2 separate regions of the Homo sapiens genome follow, and region 1 is linked to region 2. Evidence: fine-mapped expression QTL. A gene starts in region 2. The other region holds a variant in brackets. All regions are shown on one strand. Distances are from middle to middle.

Region 1 (8,317 bases), 24 kb before region 2:
GGCTAAGAGAGCCTCCTGAACCTCTTTCCCGACAGGGCAGCGGGGCAGGGCCTCTCCTTCTTCTGGGCCTCCCAAGCACCATCCCGTTCCTCCTTGTCCCAAATTCTTCGAGGCTCCCAGTACAGGGAAACCTCTGCAGAAAACTGCATTTGGATCTGATTACGGAAGAGGCCCCCTCCACCAGCTGGCTCACTCTCATTGCCATGTCCCTGGCAAGGGAAGTGCCCTTTGCTCCCCACTTGCAGGGGGCAGCGGGCTGGACTCCCAGAACCTCATGCGAGCCCCACCCCAGGGCTCCCTGGGCAAGTCACAGCTGCCCAAACCTCAGGTGCTCCTGGCTGTAAAGCAGAGAGGAGACAGCTCTGCTTCAACCCTGGCACATCCCTGGACTGGCACCTTGGGGATCGAGGTGGGTATTGACTCAAGACAAGCATATTTTGTCAAAAGCATAATGGAGGTTTCACTTGTACACCTGGGCAGACTCCACTGACTGGGTAACAATTAACTTTATTATCAGTAGTAACTGTCAGTTTCAACCAGCAGCAGTTATCGCTCCCACCCTTTGAGGGTGGGGGCCCCGTGGCTAATGCTGTCTTTAAGAATACACATCTGTGTACTTCCTGTTTCTTAGCTGAGAGAGGAGGCCTCAACAATATAAAGCGCAGGGAGCTGGGGAGCGGCAAGCCAGTGGGAATGGGCACCTGGCCATAAGTCAGAGAAGGGGAAGGAGAGTTACTTTATTCTCTTCTGGTGCCAGTAAGAACTTTATCAAGGTACTAGTGCCATCAGCTCCTGCCCAAGGGCACCCAGGGCCCCAGGTCAGCATGACGGATTTAAGACACATTACGTTCTGGGAAGACGGCTAGGAAGGTAGGTCAGCCCCACAGGGGAGAGGACACTGCATGTCCAGATGGGGGCACGCAAAATGATACCTCCACCCTCTAAGCCCTGGAATCTGTGAATGTGACCTCACTTGATAAAAGGGCCTTTGCACATGTAATTAAACTAAGGATATCAAAATGAGATTATCCTAGGTTTCAGGCGGGTCCTACCTTCAACGACAATCCAACCTCTTACAACATAAAAACAGGGAGATTGGAGACAGACATGGGGAGAAGGCCATGTGAAGACGGAGGCAGGAACTCCTGTGATGCGGCCACAAGCCACAGAGGGCCTGGAGCCACCAGGAGCTGGAAGAGGCAGGAGGGATCCTCCCCTAGCACCTGTGAAGGGAACAGGGTCCTGCCCACACCTTTATTTTTGACTTTTGGCCTCCAGAATTGTAACGAATACATTTCTGTTGTTTGAAGCCATGCAGTGTGTATAAATTTGCTACTGCGGTCAGGCCGGGCGCGGTGGCTCACGCCTGTAATCCCAGCACTTTGGGAGGCCGAGGCGGGAAGATCACGAGGTCAGGAGATCGAGACCATCCTGGCTAACATGGTGAAACCGCATCTCTACCAAAAATAAAAAAAATTAAAAAATAAAATTTTTACTGCAGTCACAAAGAACTAGTACACTGCCCTTCTTGGTGGTGGGTCCCGGGCTCTCCGAGGTCCCCCAGGGTCAAGGTTGGCTTTCTGATACCAGTCCTAGGCTGCTGGAGAAGAGCCCACTGAGAAAGAATTTTCGCCTGATTACCTGAGCTCAGGCCACCTAGGGAACAAAGAGAACTTTATTAAGTTGTAGAGGCTGCACAGAAACTGGCAGGTGGGGTGCAGGCAAAGCTGGAGAGAACAGGAGCTTCCTCTCAGGGCCCAGCCCGGGTGGGGGTGGGGGAAGCTCTCCTGTCCCATGGGGATGACTTCACAGCCCTTGCATGTGACCCTTGGGTCCAGTATCGATCCCCACCACTGCTTCCCTGGTGCGCACAGCCAGCCCGACCCCTGGATCTGTTTCAGTTGAAAATTTGACTTCTGAAGACTTTTCAAAGGCCGGGCGCAGTGGCTTATGCCTGTAATCCCAGCAGTTTGGGAGACGGGCGGATCACCTGAGGTCTGGAGTTTGAGACCAGCCTGACCAAAATGGAGAAACCCCGTCTCTACTAAAAATAGAAAATTAGCTGGGCGTGGTGGCGCATGCCTGTAAACTCAGCTACTCAGGAGGCTGAGGCAGGAGAATCGCTTGAACCCAGGAGGCGGAGGCTGTGGTGAGCCGAGATTATGCCATTGCACTCCAGCCTGGGCAACAAGAACGAAACTCCGTCTCAAAAAAAAAAAAAAAAAAAAAAAGACTTTTGCGGCAGGATCAGAATTTTCAAGAGCCATACACTGAGGATGGCCTTAGCCATGGCATCCAGACCCTTTATTTATAAGAGAAATGAAATATTTGGATATAGTTAAAGCACTTTAAACTTTTTTTTTTTTTTTTGAGACGGAGTTTAGCTCTTGTTGCCTAGGCTGGAGTGCAATGGCACCATCTCGGCTCACCCCAACCTCCGCCTCCCGGGTTCAAGCGATTCTCCTGCCTCAGCCTCCCGAGTAGCTGGGATTACAGGCATGTGCCACCACGCCCGGCTAATTTTGTATTTTTAGTAGAGACAGGGTTTCTCCATGTTGGTCAGGCTGGTCTCAAACTCCTGACCTCAGGTGATCCGCCAGCCTCAGCCTCCCAAAGTGCTGGGATTATAGGCGGGAGCCACCGCGCCCGGCCCAGCACTTTAAACTTTTGTTTTCATACCCTTGATCCCCATTTCCTTGGACACGTGCTGTGGGCCCCGCCCGCTGCCCTGATCACTAGCCAGGTTATCAGCCCAGGGGACGGGTTACATTCTCAAATAACCTAGCAAGAGGCCTGCTGGAGGGCAGCAGGGGAAAATGGAAGACCCGAATCTTTAGACAAGTCTATTTTCAGACTCGCTCCTTTCTCTACCAAACCTGAGCTGCTTCCGATTCTCCTTCTCTCTTCCCCAAACTGGGCTCTAACCCCCGTCCTCTGAATCCATGCCCGGGGAAGGTGGCTACGGGCACTGGCCCTGTCGGGGGCTGCCTACTCACCCGCCGCGGGAGGGGCCAGGTCAGCAGGGCGGCGACAGGAAGAAATGCGGGGACAGGGGCACGGGCGGTGGCAGGGGAAAGGCGGACAGCAGCCATGGGTCGCGGGTCTCGGGGGCCGTCAGCAGGCTGAAGGGAGAGGGTCGCGCGGGCAGCGGCGGAAGCGGATGCGGCGGCGGCTCGGAGACCAGGGGCGGGCGGACGAGCGCGCCCACGGGCCCAGGGGCTGAGGCGACGGCGGACACGGGCAGCGGAAGCAGCGGTAGGAGCGCGGGCGGAGCGCGCGGGCGCGGGCAGGCGCGGCAGGTCCTGCAGTGCGAGCACGGCGGCGGAGAGCGCGGGTGAGCAGGCTTCGGGCGGCAGCTCGGGCAGTGCCAGATGCGCGCCGGGGCCCCAGGGCGCCAGCGGCTCGGGCCGCAGCGGGAGCGCGGGCAGCGGTGGCAGCTCGGCCAGGGCGAGAGCGGAGGGCGTCGGCGGCCCGGGGCTCAGGCCGGGCGGCAGGCCGGGCAACGGCGGGTGCGGCAGGGACGGCGGGGGCAGCGGGGTGGGCGGCAGCGTCGAGCGGGCCCGGCCCAATCGCGAGTGGGCGCGGGCGCGGGCGAGCCGCGGGTGCGAGCTGGAGCGGGGCAGCCGCGCCGCCAGCTTGGCTGCGGCCGCCACCCCGGTTGCGGCCGCCAGCCCAGGGCCCCAGAGCGCGCCGCCAGCCGTGACCTGGTACCTCGGGAGGTGGCCAAGCGCCGCACTCCGAGCGGCCCAGCCAATCGCAGATGCTCGCCGCCGCACCCCAACCAATCACGGGCCAGTGCGCTCGCGGTCTACGGGTCCCACCCGGCAGCTGTCAAGGGCTACCCTTGGCAGCCAATCAGAGATAT[G/C]AGCGCGCTCCGCCAAGTTCTTCTTCCCGCCCTCTCCTGGTCCCAGCCAATCGCTGTGTCCCAGGTGCCGCAGCTGCTCCCCGCCCTCAGCTAGCCTGGCTATCAGGCGCTGCACACGCGCAGTGGGCGCCCCCACCTGGCTTGAGGATCTGCGGATTCGCTGCGACACCGAGGCGCGGCGCCTCACCAATTTTTTTTTTGTTTGTTTTTTAGGTGGCTTTTTTGGGGACTGAGCCCCTCACTCTGGCGCCCAGGCTACATTGCAGTGGCGCGGTCTTGGCTCAGTGAAGCCTCGACCTGCCGGACTAAAGCAGTTCTCCCGCCTCAGCCTCCCCAAGTAGCCGGGACTACAGGTGCACGCCACCACACCCGGCTAATTATTATGGTCTTTAAATTTAAAAAAAAAATTTTTTTTAGACGGAGTCTCGCTCTATCCCCCAGGCTGGAGTGCATTGGCGCAGTCTCAGCTGCAACCTCCGCCTCCTGGTTCAAACGAGTCTCCTGCCTCAGCCTCCTGAGCAGATGGGATTACGGGCGCCCGCCACCATGCCCGGCTAATTTTTGTGTTTTTAGTAGAGACGGGGTTTCGCCATGTTGGCCAGGCTGGTCTCGAACTCATGACCTCATGATGCACCCGCCTCGGCGTGCCAAAGTGCTGGGATTACAGGCGTGAGCCACCGCGCCCGGCCTAATTATTATATTTTGTGTAGAGATGGAGTCTCACCATGTTGCCCAGGCTGGTCTCGAACTCCTGGGCTCAAGCGATCCGCCGGCCTCAGTCTTCCAAAGTGCTGGGATTCCAGGCATGACCCACCGCGCCCGCCCCCCGACGCCACCGATGTGGAGTGTGAGATTGTCCTCTCGTTGCTGTTTACCCATTGCAACTCAGGTATGAGGATCCTGTGTGGATGGGTCAAGGTGCACAGATTTCCATTCAGTTATCTTATAAGAAAGATAAAACGATATCACAATTCAAAAGTAAAGTTTGGTGATAATATACTTAGCATTTGTGTTAAAGTTCCTAAGAACAATTGTAAATGACAGATGGGTGCGAATCTGGTAGCTCAGAACAAAAAGGATAAAATGGTCAATCTATTCAAAATTGGAATATAGAAACTTTTTTTTTTTTTTTTTGAGACAGGATCTTGCTCTTTCGCCCATGCTGGAGTGCAGTAGTGCCATCATGGCTCACTGCAGCCTCGATCTCCTCGGCTCAAGTAATCCTCTCACCTCAGCCTCCCAAGTAGCTGAGACTACAGGCATGCGCCACCCTGCCAGGCTAAGTTTTTTATTTGTGGAGATGGGAGTCGCCGGGTGCGGTGGCTCACGCCTGTAATCACAGCACTTTGGGAGGCCGAGGCGGGCGGATCACGAGGTCAGGAGGAGATCCAGACCATCCTGGCTAACATGGTGAAACCCCGACTCTACTAAAAGTACAAAAACTTAGCTGGGCAGGCGCCTGTAGTCCCAGCTACTTGGGAGGCTGAGGAAGGAGAATGGCATGAACCCGGGAGGGGGAGCTTGCAGTGAGCCGAGATTGCGCCACTGCACTCTAGCCTGGGCGACAGAGCGAGACTCCGTCTCAAAAAAAAAAAAAAGAGAGAGAGAATCAAGAGAGTCAAGTCGATTATGTTTCTAATTGTTGTTTGAGATGTCTAAGGCTATTTCGTTAATCAGGCATTTAAGGCACGCAAAATATTTAGGGAAAAGTCGAGTTGTGAAATTCGTATTTGTTTTTATTTACTTATTTATTTTTTATAGAGATGGGGGTCTCACTATATTGCCCAGGCTGGTCTTTAAATTGTAGGCTCAAGCAATCCTCCTGCCTTGGCCTCCCAAAATACTGGGATTACAGGCGTGACCCACCATGCCTGGCCGAGCTGTGAAATTTATAAACTAATTAAGCATTCATCAAAGATTGTGAAAGTGAGTTTTACATCCAAATTATTAGTCAATACAATATCTGGAAGGCCACTATAAAAGCTTAAGGAAAATGAGATTTTTATCTAACAACTTTAATAAATCGATTATAAATGAAAACACAAAGAATGAAGTGTTCTTTTCCATGCACAAGGCCCCTAACTTGGATGTGGTTCCCCCGCTAGGCGGTCACCAAGTGATGCCCTCCCTGAGGGCAGGCGTTGATCGAGTCTGTTTTCTTCTCATGATTTCTCCTGTTGGGAACATGGTCCCTGGCACATGGCCTCATTGATGTTTGCCAAATGAATGAATGAGGTGCTGGGTGGTGGCTGCAGGCCCATGCCACTCCCACCCTGGTCAGCAAGCCCCTTGCATGGCACGCGGAGGCAAGCAGGGAAGCACGTTTGTGGTTCTAGCATGGAGGAGACCCCCGGCCAGGCAGCACCAGAGGCCAAGCCCAAGGGTCTGTCTTCCTTGCTGGGCAGGCGAGGGGCATTGCAGTGCTCAGCATTTCCCCAGAGGGCAGCGGCCTGGGAAGACATAGAGCTGGGCTAGGGAGGGGCGGGGCCCTGGTGAGGCCTTGCCCCCTCCTCCCCTCCCAGGGACCTGAGCTTCTGGGGTCAGTCACTCAGCAGCCACCTACAGGTGGCAGAACCTGCTATCCTTCCCAAGGGCTGGGTGTCCCCCAGTATGGCTGGAGGGGTGACCACGGGGGGCCTTTGGGCAGGCGGCTCGGCCATTGCGCCTCCCTCTCACCTCCGTAGCCATTCCCCAGCTGGCCATTGCTGCCTCTCTTCACGTCGGGGCCCCCTGTGGCACAGACAGACAGACCAGGAGCACTCGGGTCACCAGAGAGCTTCCGTCCACCCCAGCTTCAACCCAGGCTGTGGGAGACACCCCCTCCCCGGAGGGCCCAGGGCTCAGCTCTGCCTCAGTTTCTCAGAGGACCGGGGGGAGAGGGACAGAGTATGGAGAACTGAGTCCGTGATGGCCCTCGTTCCCAACTCCATCACCTCCCCTTCTTGGTCCAGTGTCTGGGCTGGCTCTCAGGGTCCCGGGCTCTTCTGGCCTCTCCTCCAGCTCCATTCCTTCCTGCTCCTTCCTGCCTATGCCCTCCTGGCCTCTTCTCACTCACTCCATCCCCTCCGCCAAGAGGGCTGTACCTTCTATCTCTGTGGGGCTGTGGGTAGACCTGGGCCCAGGGCCCAGTTCCCTGAAGCCACCTCTAATGGCCCCAACACACTCATCCAGGCATCCCGTTACCTGGCTGGCTCCTGGCCTCAGCATATTCATCTCCAGCCTGATATCCAGGCTTCAAGCCGGCCCCCCAGGCCTGGAGGGTGGGCCAGCGAGAGTTCCACAGCACCCCGGCCTGCCCTGTGGGGAGGAGAGCTGGCAGGGGTACCCTTGCCCACAGGAGCTGGGACCCCTGGCCCCTGTTGGGCTTGGCTCTGCTCCCAGAAGGCTCATTTCTTACCATTTCCTTCAGGGGCTAGAGCTGCTGCTTTGGGGTACACCAGAGCTTCCACCCCATCCCCTCCAAGAGACTCTGGTCATTCCCGCCTAGCCCCTGGGCTGTTGTCTCCCCCACTCCACTGCACTTTGTCCCCTGGGTCTGACTCACTATTCCTAAAACCATTGGCCCCATGGAACCCTGGAGGAGGAAAGAGGGTGTCAGAGGCTGGGCTGGGGCCCTGAGCCCAACTCTCCCACCCCGACCCCTGCTCCCCAGGCACCTGGCTGTGGGTGGGCCTCGGGGAAGACCCTGGCTCCCAGGACACCATTCCCATAACCTAAACCTGCAGGACAGAGATTGGAGAGGAGCTAGGGACAGGCTAGTGGAACAGGGACAGCATCAGGAGGGCCAGGTGACCAGCTCATAGACAGGGGGATGCGGACAGACAGACTGACTCAGGCATGAGGGAGATGCCAGCTTCCGCTCAACATGGGTCGGGGGCCCAGGAGGACTCACCAATTTTCTGTGGCTCGAGGCCACCATTAAAACCTGGGGGAGAGAAAACTGTGACTCAGAGATGGGGGTCAGCGAGAGCCACAGCCCTGGCCTCCCCTCTTCCTGGGATGGCAGAAGGAAGAGGAGGGAAGAGGAAGGGAAGGGAGGGGAGGAACTCCAGGAAGGGCCTCCTCACCTGGTTCTGCTCCCGGTCCATAGCCATTTGGAGGCTGGTGCCCTGTGAGGAGAAAGGAAGTCAGTGCGGGGGACCCAGGTCTCCCCTGACTCCTTGGAGGCCAAAGATCGACCTTAGGGACTCTGAAGGGGAAGCAGAGACTTTTCCTGTCCACAGGGAATGGAACCAGAAGAAATCTGGAGAGCAGCAAGAGACTGGGCGCAGTGGCTCACGCCTGTAATCCCAGCACTTTGGGAGGCTGAGGTGGGCTGATCACTTGAAGCCAGGAGTTTGAGACCAGCCTGTCCAATGTGACAAAACCCCGACTCTACAAAAATACAAAGATTAGCCAGGTATGGTGGTGCGTGCCTGTAATGCCAACTACTTGGGAGGCGTATTTTGCAGT
Region 2 (8,317 bases):
TGTGGCCGAAACCGCATGAGTGAGTCTTCCTTGGAGAGTCTGGGCGGAGCCGCGGGTGCTGTGGCGGCGACGGGACACACGGGGGCGCGCGCGGCCCGCGCCTGGTCGCGCGGGTGGGACTCGCGGGAACCGGGTGCCTGGGCGGCGGCTGGGAGGATTCCTCCTGGAAGGAGGTCGGCAAAGCGCTTTGGTCCGGAACCCTGTGGGCCCGTGCCTCGGTCCCTGTGACCCCAAGGTGGTTAGAGGAGTCCGGGCTTCTTTCCTCCTGGGGCCTCTTTTTGGCCCAGACTGCAGCGTTGAAAACTGCAACAGACTGTACAGATGAGGGGGTCTTACTATTTTATTATTATTATTATTATTATTATTATTATTATTATTATTATTAATTTGAGACCGAGTCTCGCTCTGTCGCCCAGGCTGGAGTGCAGTGGCGCCATCTCGGCACACTGCAGCATCCACCTCCTGGGCTCAAGCGATCCTCCCACCTCACCCTCTTGACTAGCTGGGAGCACAGGTACACACCACCATGCCCAGCTAATTTTTGAATGTTTTGTAGAGACAGGGTTTTGCCATATTGCCCAGGCTGGTCTCTAACTTCTGAGCTCAAGTGACCTGCCCGCCTCAGCCTGCCAAATTGCTGGGATTACAGGCGTGACCACCTCGCCCAGCCTGTTATTCTGAAACAATGAGTAAGCCCCTACTGTGTGTTCGGCTCTGTGCTAAGCACTTCACAGGCATTTTCTCATGTGGTGCTCATACTCCCCGAGGAAGGAGGAACTACTATTATTATCACTTTATATTTTTTACAGGGTCTCACTCTGTTGCCCAGGCTCACTGCAGCCTTTTTTTTTTTTTTTTTTTTTGAGACAGAGTCTCGCTCTTGTCACCCAGGTTGGAGTGCAGTGGTGCGATGTGGGCTCACTGCAACCTCTGCCTCCCAGGTTCAAGCAATTCTGCCTCAGCCTCCCGAGTAGCTGGGATTACAAGCGCCTGCCATCACACCCAGCTAATTTTTGTATTTTTAGTAGAGAAGGGGTTTCACCATATTGGCCAGCCTGGTCTCGAACTCCTGAGCTCAAGTGATCCACCTGCCTCAGCCTCCCAAACTGCTGGGGTTACCAGCATGAGCCACTGCACCCGGCCCTCACTGCGGCCTTTAACTCCAGGGATCAAGTGATCCTCCTACTCCAGCCTCCTGAGGAGCTGGGACTACAGGTGTGTACCACTGTGCCTCACTGCTTTATTTCTTCTTTCTTTTCTTTTTTTCTCTCCCTTTCTTTCCTTCCTTCCTTTCCTTTCCTTTCTTTCTTTCTCTTTTTCTTTCCCTTTCTTCCCTTCCTTTTCTTTCTTTTTTCTTTCTTGAGACAGGGCCTTGCTATGTTGCCTAGTCTAGAAAACTATTATTTTTATCCCCATTTTACACACGCAGAAACTGGGGCAGGCAGGATCGCAGCCCTAGTTTCCCTCACACCACGCACTTATCTGCTCCATCTACTTATTTCCATTTACATATATTTATATTACAGCCTTTCCTCACACAGTGAAATTTACATCGGAAGCATGTGTTTCCATGCTTTTTTTTTTTTTTTTTTAATTATCATTGTGAATCAGACTTTAAAAAATGGGCGGTTGGAAGGGGACCTGTTGGGGAGATGGGGCTGGCAGAGGTAGCCCTAGGCAGCTGGGGAGGGGCCTGTGTGTGCCCCAGGCCTCCTGGGGGCCAGTCTGGAGTCATCAACAAGGATCCTGCCTGAGTCACTGGGGCACAGCCGCCAGAGATGCGAAGGACAAGGAAAGGTGCAGGCAGGTGGGCTGCCGCCCCCAGCCAGGATCCCAGCCTCTCCTCCCCCACACTGCTGCTCCATGCACAGAACGTTTACAGAGGGTGCAGGAACTGAATGGGTGGGAAGCTTTGCAGTCCATGACCTGTCAGAGACTTGGGGAGGATGGAGGGTTTGGGGGACTGGTTCTGGAGGCCAGGGCTAGAAGGAGCAGGTAGTCAACAAGTAAACTCACAAACAAAAGATAGAACATCGGACAGAGATCAGGGCAATAGCAAAAATAAGGCGGAAGGAGAGGTGAGAGTGAGAAGGCCAGCGTTTGGGGGAGGGTTGGCCGGAAGCGTACTCCTCCCACCCAGTTAAACAGATAAAGAGCCCCTCGGTGAGGGAAGGAACAATCCCTAGCCCGACTTGCTCCGCGAGGGCCCCTGCTAATCACTTTAGGGGATCATCCCAGCGTCCTCAGCTGTTTTTTTTTTTCCAGGAGAGGAGACTAATCCGAAGCTCAGAAAGGCTCAGTGCATTCCCAAGGTCGTTCAGCCAGGAGAGCGCTGAAGGGATCTGAGCTGAGAGCAAGTCTCAAACTCAGAGAATGGAGGAGCTGCCCCGGAAGTGGCTGCTCGAGGCTGCAGTGAACTATGATCCTGCGGCCAATCGCGGTGGCTCACGCCTGTAATCCCAGCCTTCTGGGAGGCCGAGGCGGGCGGATCGCTTGAGGTCAGAAGTTCGACACTAGCTTGGCCAACATGGTAAAACACCGTCTCTACAAAAAAATGCAAAAATTAGTTGGGTGTGGTGGCGCGCGCCTGTGGTCCCAGCTACTCAGGAGGCTGAGGTGGGAGGAACGCTTGAGCGGGGGAGGCGGAAGTTACAGTGAGTCGAGATCGCCCCACTGCACTCCAGCCTGGACAACAGAATGAGACCCTGTCTAAAAATAAAATACATGAGCCGAGTGCGGTGGCGCGCGCCTGTGATCTCACATACTCGGCAGGCTGAGGTTGGGAGAACCGCCTGAACCTGGGGACTGCACCACTGCATTCCAGCCTTGGTGACAGTGAGACCCTGTCTAAAAAAAAAAAAAAAAGTATCTGAGGCCTGTTGGCAGGGAAGCTGCAGGCAGGCGAGGTCAGGCCAAGCAGAGTCCTGCCTATCTGGAGAGCTTCCTGGAAGAGGCGGCTTTTTCTGGCTCCCGAAGCCGTGCGCTAGGGGTTGGGGGTCGTGCGTCTGGCCTCCCACCGCGACCCTGGTTCAGAACACGGCCGGAGTGAGAAGGGGGGTGCCGGGACCCAGGAGGCCGTAGGGACTTCCTGGTCCTACCCGGAGTAACCCTGGGGCTACGCCTGCTCCGAGCACCGGGATGGCGGTCCCTTTTATGGACCCAAACACTACGCCAGCCCAGCGAGGGCGGTGGGTGTCGGGTGCGAGGCCTGGAGGGCAGTGGGCGTCCCAGGGACTGGGCGGCTGAAGCCCCGCGCAGCGACTCAGAACCAGGCCGCCACCCACGCCCCGGGCCAGCGCGGAGAATCCTGTGCGCCTGCGCAGTGAGCGGCGGGGCGGCTCGGCGGCGCGCACGCAGCACGAGGGGCGGAGCCTCGGAGCCCGGGCACCCCTGACGGGCTGCACTGGGGAGGGGGAGGAGCCTCGAGGCCGGTTTGGAATTTTTGGCGCGAGCAGCTCCGCGCGCGTTCACGGGCCGTTCCCCCTCACGGGAGTCCTCCGCCCGGGCGTCCGGAACAGTCGACGGCAGACTCCGGCCCGCTGAGCCACCCGAGGGGTCCCGTGGCCTCCGCGGACCCGGAATCTGGGCCCTCGCGGACCCGCGCCCCGCCCAGTCGCCCCAGGTGAGCCCAGACCCCGCCGTGAGGGGCCTCGGCGTGGCCACCTCGCCGCTCCCCTCCGCCTCGCCAGGTCTGCGTTACCCCTGCCCCTCAGGCCTCCCCGGCGGCCCGCTCGCGTCCCCTCAGGCCCGCCCCCGCGAGCCCCTGCCTCCCGTCCTCCCCAATTCCTGGTTCCCTTGCCTCGAGCCCCTTCCCAGCGGCGGTCCCGCCCTACTCGCCCCTCCCGGAGACCCCGCCTGCTGTCCATCAACCCCGCGCCGCCGCCCTCCCCGTGACAGTCCTTCCTCCGTGACAGCCCCTGCCCCGGGACAGCCTCTCTTCTTCTGCAACAGCCCCTCTTCCCTCGTGACAGCCCGTCCACTGCTCTGTTCGCCAGGGCTTCCCCACACCCACGGAGTGAAGTCAGCCGCGGCCCTGCCTGGGAGGAACTTACCGTCTACCGGGAAAGGTGGCCAGCAGATGTGTCGGGCCTGGTGAGAGGGTGAGGCGAGACGGCCCGATCGCCCAGGGCCCCGGAAGCTGCGGAGGTCACCCCCGCCTGGCCTTAGCTCAGGGACACCCTGGATTCACGTGGGAGCCCCTGCTCCTGCCTCCCCCGTCCCACCACTGAGGCTGTTGGGCCAGGCCAGTCATGCTAGAACGTAAGTCGTAGGGCAGGGACGGTGGGAGAACTGGGTTAAGATGCACAGGCCCAGGTCCCCGAGTGTGCCAGGGTTGGGCCTGGAGGCTGTGCTTGTGACCAGTGACCTCCAGGATCCCAACACCCTGGCTCCTGACTTGGAGAAACCCTGGGCTGGGACTCTGAGGTAGTTAGAGTCAGAGGAAGAGTCTCCACAAGATGGAGGGCAGCCTGCCAGCCAGGCCCAGGTAGCATCGCTCCCCTCACCCCTGTACTCCCTCAGGTACTGGAGACTGCTCTTTTTAATTTTTTATTTACTATTATGTATATTTTTTTGAGATGGAGTTTTGCTCTTGTCGCCCAGTTGGAGTGCAATGCCGCAATCTCGGCTCACCGCAACTTCCACCTCCTGGGTTCAAGCATTTCTCCTGCCTCAGCCTCTGAGTAGCTGGGACTACAGGCATGCACCAGCACGCCCGGCAAAAATTTGTATCTTTAGTAGAGATGGGGTTTCACCATGTAGGCCAGGCTGGTCTCGAAGTCTTGACCTCAAGTGATCCACCCACCTTGCCTCCCGAAGTGCTGGGATTACAGGCGTGAGCCACCACACCCAGCCGCTCTATTGTTTTTTATAATACTTTGGTGCACCAGCCTCACCAACATGGTGAAACCACATCTCTACTAAAAATATAAAAATTATTCTAGTGTGTTGGCACACGCCTGTAATCCCAGCTACTCAGGAGGCTGAGGCAAGAGAATTACTTGAACCTGGGAGTCGGAGGCTGCAGTGGGCCGAGATCATACCACTGCACTCCAGCCTGGGCAACAGAGTGAGACCCTGTCTCAAAAACAAACAAACAAACAATACCTTGGGGCATAAAGTGTTCCACGGTCCAATCCAATTAAATTTTTTTTTTTTTTTGAGACAGAGTCTCGCTCTGTTGCCCAGGCTGGAGTGCAGTGGCATGATCTTGGCTCACTGTAATCTCTGCCTCCCAGGTTCAAGCAATTCCCCTGCCTCAGCCTCCCGAGTAGCTGGGACTACAGGCATGCACCACCACACCCAGCTAATTTTTGTATTTTTAGTAGAGATGGGGTTTCACCATGTTGGCCAGGCTGGACTCGAACTCCTCACCTCAGGTGATTTACTCACCTCAGCCTCCTAAAATGCTGGGATTACAGGCATGAGCCACTGTGCCTGGCCAGATCCAATTAATTTTGAGCTCCTTTGACAGGGTGGCTTTTGAGGTCAGTGAGGTTTGTTCTGACAGCAGGCAGGCTCTTCCTAGCTAGCTCTTTCTCCACTTCTCTGTGGTAAACTAGCTGGCCTATGGTTCAGCTGGTTGCCCTAATGCGGGTACCAGTCTCTTCTTAATGGCGCACCACCAAAACTTCCACTGATTTTGACAGCCCCTTTAAACTTGAACTTCCCTACGCACTGTTTCAAATCAAGCCAATTTTCAGGGGGTTGGTGGGTGGGGAGAGCTCTATTTATGACCTACGTCTACCCCTAGGCTAAATCTCTGTCTGAGCCATGCTGTGGAACTGGGGGCAGGACAGCGGGGCACCTCTCTGAGTGCTGCTATTGCTTTAGGAGCAGGTCGCTGGGTTGGGCAGGAGCCTCTGGCCTTCTTGGTTGCCCTCTCCCAGTGTGGAGCCTCCTTCCTACAAATGAGCTGGGGCTCCATGTTCCCAGCCTGCCGGGCCTGAGATATAGCCTCTATTCTATGCTTGGGGGCAGGTGGAAGAAAGGAGCCCCTGGCCTGTCTGCCACACTCAGCTGGAATTTAGCCTCTGCCATGTGGAGCTGGGAGGGTTGAGAAGTGCTGAGAACCTGGCCCTCCTGGGCAAACACCCTAACCCTTGACGGGGAGCTGGGGGAGAGGGAGCCCTTCTTCTTGGCCACACCTGCCCCCAGTGCTAGGCGGGGGGAGAGGGGTGCTGGAGGTGGGAGGGCAGGAGTGTCATGGCTCAGGTGCCAACAGGCTTGCCATTATTCCCAGGCCTTGGCAGGTTTTCTTGTGTAAACCTTTGTTTGCTGTGTGCCCTGGGCACCATGCCCAGAGGCTTTCAGTGCTTGCTTTTGAATAATCGTCATCAGTTGTGCTGTTTCACTGGGGCAGGGGTCCACGGAGCTGCACACACTGCCATTCTGGAAGTGGACACCACTAACTGGGTTTTGGCACGACAGTTATGAAAAAGAAAGACACTTGAGGGATTCCGGGTTTTCACTTTGGAATTGGAGATAAGGGATCGTGGGCCCGTGTAGTCTCGGAAGAGGTTGTGTAGTTTAGGATCAAAGAGCTGGCCGTGATGAGGGCAGGGATGCAGGCGCAGCCCGTCTGACTCCAAACTGCCTTGCTCTTAACCCGACTGCAAGACCCTCAAGAACACGGGCCCCATGGTTTTCCTCTTATGTTTCTATCATCTCTAAAATACAACAGCCTGGTGGGCAGGTGAGTATGAATCTGTCCTCTGCCTTTTCTTGGTAGGTGCTTATTGCTCCCATTGCCGTTTAAAGTAGAATAAGTGTGTGGTATAGACATAGCTCTCTTCTGTGGCCTCTTTGGAGCCACAGGGCCAGGTGGTATCAGAGTGGACATGCTGCCCTGTACTCAGCCTCTGTCTCTGCCCCCAGGGCCTCCTGCACTGGCCATGCCCATGCCCACGGAGGGCACCCCGCCACCTCTGAGTGGCACCCCCATCCCAGTCCCAGCCTACTTCCGCCACGCAGAACCTGGATTCTCCCTCAAGAGGCCCAGGGGGCTCAGCCGGAGCCTCCCACCTCCGCCCCCTGCCAAGGGCAGCATTCCCATCAGCCGCCTCTTCCCTCCTCGGACCCCAGGCTGGCACCAGCTGCAGCCCCGGCGGGTGTCATTCCGGGGCGAGGCCTCAGAGACTCTGCAGAGCCCTGGGTATGACCCAAGCCGGCCAGAGTCCTTCTTCCAGCAGAGCTTCCAGAGGCTCAGCCGCCTGGGCCATGGCTCCTACGGAGAGGTCTTCAAGGTGAGTGAGGGGACGGCTTCTAGGCCCATCTGGGGGACCTCCTTTGTGTTTCTGCACCTCCCTTGGCAGGACAGTGTCCTGGGCAGCCTGATCCCCTTCCGTTCCCTACAGCCTGTCCCTGCTGGGCTCACAGGCTCCCTCCACATTTGACTTGGCTGCTCCCATCATCCCCAATGCAGGCCCCTCCAGGGGTTGCTCTGTGCATACTGGCCCCTTGTCCAGAGTCTGGCACGCCCTGCAGCAGCCCCTGTGCCATCTCCTCCGGCCCTGGCGCCAGCTGTGCAGCGTCCTTGGCGAGTCGGCCCAGCCTCTGGCACTGGCCCTGAGTGCAGTGCCTGGCCAGCCCTCCCCAGGCTGGCAGGCTTTGAGCTACCCCCTGCCTGCCATCTTGCTTTTCTTAAACACAGTTTCCAGTCATTTATATTTTCTTTTAGAGAGGAGTTTTCCCTTGTATGAGTCCTGTATGAAGACAATTTTGTTAAAAAGTACAAACAACATTGGCCCCCAGGTCAGCTTTCTCACAGGGGAGCCCACTTTTCACACCACAGCCTGGGCTGCCTGTGTTGCTCTGCAGCTGCTTTTTCCACCTCGTGACACATCCAAGAGGTCCCCTGGGGTCAGTGCAGGTCGGCCCTGGCTCCTCCGTCGCTGGGTCTCCACAGACCCAGCCCGAGGGATGGAGGTTTGTCTGGTTTTGTTATTACCCTGGGCAGGGGTCTGAGACAGATGCCAGCTACACCACCGTGCCCCGTGTGTGAACCCTTAATGGGGTCTGCCAGGTTGTCCCCCTATGTGATTGTGCCACTTGTGGCTCACCCTCACTGTGTGCGTGGGTACCACCTCCCTTCCAGGTGCGCTCCAAGGAGGACGGCCGGCTCTATGCGGTAAAGCGTTCCATGTCACCATTCCGGGGCCCCAAGGACCGGGCCCGCAAGTTGGCCGAGGTGGGCAGCCACGAGAAGGTGGGGCAGCACCCATGCTGCGTGCGGCTGGAGCAGGCCTGGGAGGAGGGCGGCATCCTGTACCTGCAGACGGAGCTGTGCGGGCCCAGCCTGCAGCAACACTGTGAGGCC

The links. PIP is the estimated chance that this variant, and not a neighbour inherited with it, causes the effect.
Region 1: its variant is fine-mapped to the expression of PKMYT1 in cerebellar hemisphere (GTEx, PIP 0.98).

The regions. Positions count from the first base shown.
Region 1 is chr16:2,999,559-3,007,875 of GRCh38, reverse strand. GREP1 (glycine rich extracellular protein 1) reads right to left here. Exons shown (of 29, transcript NM_001396456.1): 25 at 7,933-7,974; 26 at 7,758-7,790; 27 at 7,049-7,162; 28 at 6,542-6,595; 29 at 5,865-6,315. The coding sequence ends at 6,290. Among named protein-coding and RNA genes, the nearest start is that of CLDN9, 9.2 kb to the left of the region's middle. RefSeq lists enhancers at 1-278, 1,614-1,908, 3,714-4,008, 3,155-4,113, 5,860-6,396 and silencers at 3,570-3,659, 3,670-3,769, 3,714-4,008, 3,756-4,049. The variant G/C (reference allele first, on the strand shown) is at 3,866.
Region 2 is chr16:2,975,591-2,983,907 of GRCh38, reverse strand. PKMYT1 (protein kinase, membrane associated tyrosine/threonine 1) reads left to right here and starts at 3,462. Exons shown (of 9, transcript NM_004203.5): 1 at 3,462-3,622; 2 at 3,996-4,260; 3 at 6,877-7,244; 4 at 8,096-8,317. The coding sequence starts at 4,251. RefSeq lists silencers at 1-172, 127-186, 427-476, 3,129-3,488, 3,499-3,728 and enhancers at 597-1,098, 2,143-3,019, 3,020-3,895, 3,896-4,772.